Regions from separate parts of the Homo sapiens genome. Here region 2 is linked to region 1. Evidence: fine-mapped expression QTL. A gene starts in region 1. The other region holds a variant in brackets. All regions are shown on one strand. Distances are from middle to middle. Region 1 holds the start of AXL (AXL receptor tyrosine kinase). Region 2 overlaps TGFB1 (transforming growth factor beta 1).

Region 1 (2,898 bases):
GTGGTGCACACCTGTAATCCCAGCAACTCAGGAAGCTGAGGTGGGAGGATCACTTGAACCCAGGAGATGGAGGTTGCAGTGAGCCGAGATCGAGCCATTGCACTCCAGCCTGGGCAACAAAGCAAGACTGGGTCTCAAAAAAAAAAAAAAAAAAAAAGACACAGCCCAGGGAGACAACGGTGAAGGGCCCTAAGTGGCCAGTGACAAGGAGCTGGGAGCTTGCCCTGAGGGCAGCAGGAGGCCATGGGCAAGCAGAGAAGGGACAGGGTAGGATTTGACTTTCAGAAACAGTCCTCTGGTTGCTAAATGGGAGAAAGGAGTGACAGTAGAGGCAGGAGAAGGCAGGATCAGACGGGGGTGCTGGGAAGGGGCAGGTAGAAGAGACATCAGGAGGCCAAACAGATAGGACTTTATGATGCACCGTAGGTATACCAGTACCCAAACACAGGTGGCCAAGAGCAGAGGGATAGACGCCCAGCCTCCTCCTCACAGACATCCAGGCATGCAGAGCCCTCCACGTGCCAAACACACAGGGCCGAGGAATGGAAGTGCAGCAGAGCCGATACGCAGGCAGCAGATCTGCAATAACCAGGACACACAGTCCCACCAGAAGGAGAGAGCAGTGGAATGATCAGGGCTCACTGCAGCCTCGATCTCTTGGACTCAAGCGTTCCTCTCACTCCAGCCTCCCTAGTAGCTGGGACCACAGGCACACGCCATGATACCTGGTTAAGTTTTAATTTTTAAACTTCTTGTAGAGATGGGGGTCTCAGTGCATTGACCAGTCTGGTCTCGAACTCCTGGGCTCAAGCGATCCTCCCACCTTGGCCTCCCAAAGTGCTGGGATTACAGGAGTGAGTTACTGTGCCCGGCCAACAACTATTCTTATTCCCATTTTACAGATGGACAAACTGAGGCTCAGGAGGCCAGTCACTTGCCTGTAGCCCACAGTTAGTGGTAGCACTGGGATTCCAACTTGGGTCCCCTTCATGTCGCCTGTATTTGGTGTCCCATTTAGGCGTCCATGCAGGTTTTGGCGTGTCTGAAGATCTGTGTCTCCCCAAGTAAGTGTCCCCCATGGATGCCCACCCAGCCGTGTCCTCCTGTCTCTGAGGTTTCTCCAGGAATCGAGCTCCTGGCCTGGCTTGTCTGAGTGTGTCTGTGGGCCAGTAGCATGCCCCTGCCCGTCTGGGTCCCTCTGCGTGTCTCTGCTTGTCCTAGCCTGTGTGTGTCAGTGACGTCTAAGAGTGTGTGTGCGTGCGTGCGTGCGTGCGTGTGTGTGTGTGTGTGTGTGTCCTTGTCCGAGGAGCCGAGAGAGTGAGGGGGAATGAAGGGCCAAGGAGGCCTGGCTGGGGCTGGGCTGGGGGTGGAGGCGGGGAGAGGGGCGTCACGGCCTGAGCTGAGAGGGGAGTGGAGTTCTGGAGGAATGTTTACCAGACACAGAGCCCAGAGGGACAGCGCCCAGAGCCCGGATAGAGAGACACGGCCTCACTGGCTCAGGACAGGGGGCACAGCCACCAGGGTCCCCTTCCCCCTCCTCAGCTCCCTCCCTGGCCCCTTTAAGAAAGAGCTGATCCTCTCCTCTCTTGAGTTAACCCCTGATTGTCCAGGTGGCCCCTGGGCTCTGGCCCTGGTGGGCGGAGGCAAAGGGGGAGCCAGGGGCGGAGAAAGGGTTGCCCAAGTCTGGGAGTGAGGGAAGGAGGCAGGGGTGCTGAGAAGGCGGCTGCTGGGCAGAGCCGGTGGCAAGGGCCTCCCCTGCCGCTGTGCCAGGCAGGCAGTGCCAAATCCGGGGAGCCTGGAGCTGGGGGGAGGGCCGGGGACAGCCCGGCCCTGCCCCCTCCCCCGCTGGGAGCCCAACAACTTCTGAGGAAAGTTTGGCACCCATGGCGTGGCGGTGCCCCAGGATGGGCAGGGTCCCGCTGGCCTGGTGCTTGGCGCTGTGCGGCTGGGCGTGCATGGCCCCCAGGGGTGAGTGATGGGGGCTCCTTGGGGCAGGGATCCCCTCGGAGGGGCTGGGGCAGGGGTAGGAGGTGGGGGATGATGGCAGGTGTGGGGGGCCTGGGCTGGCTTAGGGAGTTTCCTTGGGACCACAGAAAAGGGACTTCAAGGGAGGGAGACACAGACTCAGAGACACCAAGTGCGGCAGAGGGAGAGAAAGACTGAGAGAGGAACTGAAGGGCAGGGGGGACAGAAGAGAGGACCCGGAGAGACAGACAGACAAGGAGAAGCTGAGGGCAGGGGTGGGGGCTGGACCTGAGAAGGGGGCCATGGGGAGAGGGGCTGAGCTGAGGGTCGCCAGGAAGGAAGAAATCTTTCCGAAGGGGCACCGAGTCAGGCAGTGGGATGAGGAGGGCTCTGGAGCCCTGGGGGAAAACGCTTCTCCCTGCCAACACCACCCCCCTGACCCGCCACTTGTCCCTACCCCACCAGTCCACTCCATCTCTGGGGAGGAGGCTCTCACTTTGTCTCTCTGTCTCTGCCTCCAGCTCTGCTATCTCTGTGGGTCTCTGTTTCTCTCTCTTTCACAGTCTCTGCCTTTATCTCTCCCTGCTCTCTGAGTCTCTCTCTCTCTTCTCAGCCTCCCTCTGTGACTGTATCCCCCCTCCGCCCCCACCTTTTCTTCTCTCTTGAGGGCTGTTTCTTCATTTTTTCTGTCTTGCCTTGTATCTGTGCTCCTCTCTGTCTCATCTCCCCTGCCTTTCTCTGGCTTCTCCCTCCGCCACCACCCTTATCTCCCCCCACCACCACCCTTATCTCTCTCCCCCAACCCCTGATTCTTCCCCTCCATCCACCAGCACCAGCGCGACCTGTTAAGTCTCTAGAGACCTAAGAGAGGACGGAGGGGGCAGGGGCTGGCCCTGCCAGGCAGTGCAGGGCGTGGGAGGCTGCCAGATCCCG
Region 2 (2,898 bases), 110 kb after region 1:
CCCAGGCAGGCGCCCAATGACACAGAGATCCGCAGTCCTCTCTCCATCTTTAATGGGGCCCCAGGTGGGCTTGGGGCACGGGTGTCCTTAAATACAGCCCCCATGGGCAAGGCAGCGGGGGCGGGGCGGGGTGGGGCCGGGCCTGCCGGGGCGGGGCGGGGCGGGGCGGGACCTCAGCTGCACTTGCAGGAGCGCACGATCATGTTGGACAGCTGCTCCACCTTGGGCTTGCGGCCCACGTAGTACACGATGGGCAGCGGCTCCAGCGCCTGCGGCACGCAGCACGGCGCCGCCGAGGCGCCCGGGTTATGCTGGTTGTACAGGGCCAGGACCTGCGGGCGGCGGGCGGGGTCAGGGCTCAGGGCTCGTGGAGGGAGGAAAACGGCCCTCCACTGCCCCATCCCCCACCCGCTACCGCGCCAGCCTCTCTCACTTCGTCTCTCCCCGCATCCCCTCTTCCCATCTCCAATTCGGTCTCTCTTATCTTCTAACATCCTATCTTATTCTGTCTCTCCCCACCTGTCTGATTTTCTTTTTGTTTTGAGACTGGGTCTCGCTCTGCCACCCAGGCTGGAGTATAGTGGCACGATCATGGCTCGCTGCAGCCTCAACCTCCTGAGCGCAAGCCATCCTCCCGCCTCAGCCTCCGGAGTAGCTCCAACCACAGGCAAGCGCCACCACTCCTAGCTTTTTTTTTTTTTTTTTTTTTTTTTTTGGTAGAGATGGGATCTCAGTCTGCTGCCTGGGCTACTCTCGAACTCCTGGGCTCAAGCGATCCTCCTGCTTCAGCGTCCCAAAGTGTTGGTATTACCATCGTGAGCCGCCGCGCCCGCCTGATTTTCTTTCTCAGTCTCTGTCCCTCCTCATCTTCGCCTCTTGCCTTGTTGTGTATCTGTCTTTGTCTCTCCTTGGCCTAACTCTGTGTCTGTATCTGTCTCTCTCATTTTGTCTCTCCATTTCTGCGTTTTTCCTTCCATCTCCCTGTCTCTCTTCTCCCCTTCACCCCCATCCCTCTGTTACTTCACTCTGTGGGTCTTCATAGCTCATCTCCCTCTGGCCCCTGCTCAGAGCCCCTCTCTAGCTTCCTGCCTCTCTCCCCATCTCTTTATTCATTCCCCTCCCCACCCCATCCCTCTCTTTCTCCCCATCCTGCCAACTCACCTCTCTGACTTTACTTCTCTTTCTCTCTCCTCTTCCTCCGTCCTGGCTCCCCCCAAGCGCATCTCGTAGCCCGGTGGGCCAGACGTACCTTGCTGTACTGCGTGTCCAGGCTCCAAATGTAGGGGCAGGGCCCGAGGCAGAAGTTGGCATGGTAGCCCTTGGGCTCGTGGATCCACTTCCAGCCGAGGTCCTTGCGGAAGTCAATGTACAGCTGCCGCACGCAGCAGTTCTTCTCCGTGGAGCTGCAGGCAGGAGAGACGC[G/A]TCAGGGGCAGGGAGGGGCTACCACCATAGAAGCCACATGCCCCTCCTCCCCAGGTGCGTGTGTCACCCTAGGTTGCCCCCCCAGCCCTATCTCCATCTGGGTCTCCCTTGCACCCACTGTGTTAATAACAACACAAATAGTCATGATAATCACTAACACAGATTAAGCACTTCCTCCAGTGCTAAGAGCAATGTAATAATTAATTTCACGCAATGCTTAAGACAAGCCTGTAAGAAGCCAGATGACCATCCACGGGGGGGCTAAATAAATCATGGCATGCCACACCCTGGAACATACAAAATAACACAGCTCCATGTAAACTGATCTGCTCTATTTGTGCAACAAATGTTTATTGAACTACTACTGTGTGCTGGGCTGGGATCTACTGTGGACTGAGGACAAATGAAACAGATAGAAATAGGCTAGGCATGGTGGCTCACACCTTTAATCCCAGCACTTTGGGAGGATGAAGTGGGAGGATCGCTGGAGTCGAGGAGTTCGAGGTTGCAGTGAACTATGATAACACCACTGCATGCCAGCCTGGACAACAAAGTGCAAGACCCTGTCTCTACAAAATTTTTTTTCAATTTTTTTAAAAAAGAGACAGAAATCTCTGCCCTCCATGGGCATGCTATAAATTGTCTTGTCACTCCTCTGCTCTGAACCTGGCTCCATCTCACGGCAAATGCCCAAGTCCTCACCGTGAGCCACAAGGTGCTATCAAATCTGGCTGATCTCAACTCCCTCTCTCACGCCTACTCCACTCCAGCCACACTGGCGTCCTGTCTGTTCCTCAGACAGTCTTATTTCGGGGCTCCTGCATCTGCTGTTCCCTCTGCCTGCCTTGCTAGTCCCACAGATACCCACTCCAGCTTGTTCCTTCACTTCATTTCTTCTTTTTTTTTCTATTTTTTTTTTTTTTTTTTTTTGAGACAGAGTCTCACTCTGTCTGCCAGGCTGGAGTGCAGTGGCATGATCTCGGCTCACTGCAACCTCCGCCTCCCAGGTTCAAGCGATTCTCCTGCCTCAGCCTTCCGAGTAGCTGGGATTACAGGCGTGTGCCACCATGCCCGGCTAATTTTTTTGTCTTTTTAGTAGAGACAGGGTTTCACCATGTTGGCCAGGCTGGTCTCGAACTCCTGACCTTGTGATCCGCCCACCTCAGCCTCCCAAAGTGCTGGTATTACAGACCTGAGCCACTGCATCTGGCCTATTTATTCTTTTTAATTTGTTATTCTTTTTAGAGACACGGTCTCACTATGTTGCTGAGGCTGGTGTCGAACTTGGGCTCAAACGATCCGCACGCCTCGGCCTCCCAAAGCATTGGGATTACTGGCATGAGCCACCACACCTGGCCCCTTCACTTCATTTAAACCTTAGCTCAAATGTCCTTCACTCAGGGACCCTTAACTCCTAAAGCAGTGTCTGGAATGCAGTAGGTACTAGTAAATATCAGTTACATGACTGAACATCAC

What was found.
Region 2: its variant is fine-mapped to the expression of AXL in whole blood (INTERVAL, PIP above 0.99).

Annotation. Positions count from the first base shown.
Region 1 is chr19:41,217,510-41,220,407 of GRCh38, forward strand. It overlaps AXL (AXL receptor tyrosine kinase), which reads left to right and starts at 1,714. Exons shown (of 20, transcript NM_021913.5): 1 at 1,714-1,968. The coding sequence starts at 1,884. RefSeq lists an enhancer at 855-1,679 and a silencer at 1,288-1,427.
Region 2 is chr19:41,330,879-41,333,776 of GRCh38, forward strand. TGFB1 (transforming growth factor beta 1) reads right to left here. Exons shown (of 7, transcript NM_000660.7): 6 at 1,250-1,403; 7 at 1-332. The coding sequence ends at 174. Among named protein-coding and RNA genes, the nearest start is that of TGFB1, 22 kb to the right of the region's middle. The variant G/A (reference allele first, on the strand shown) is at 1,423.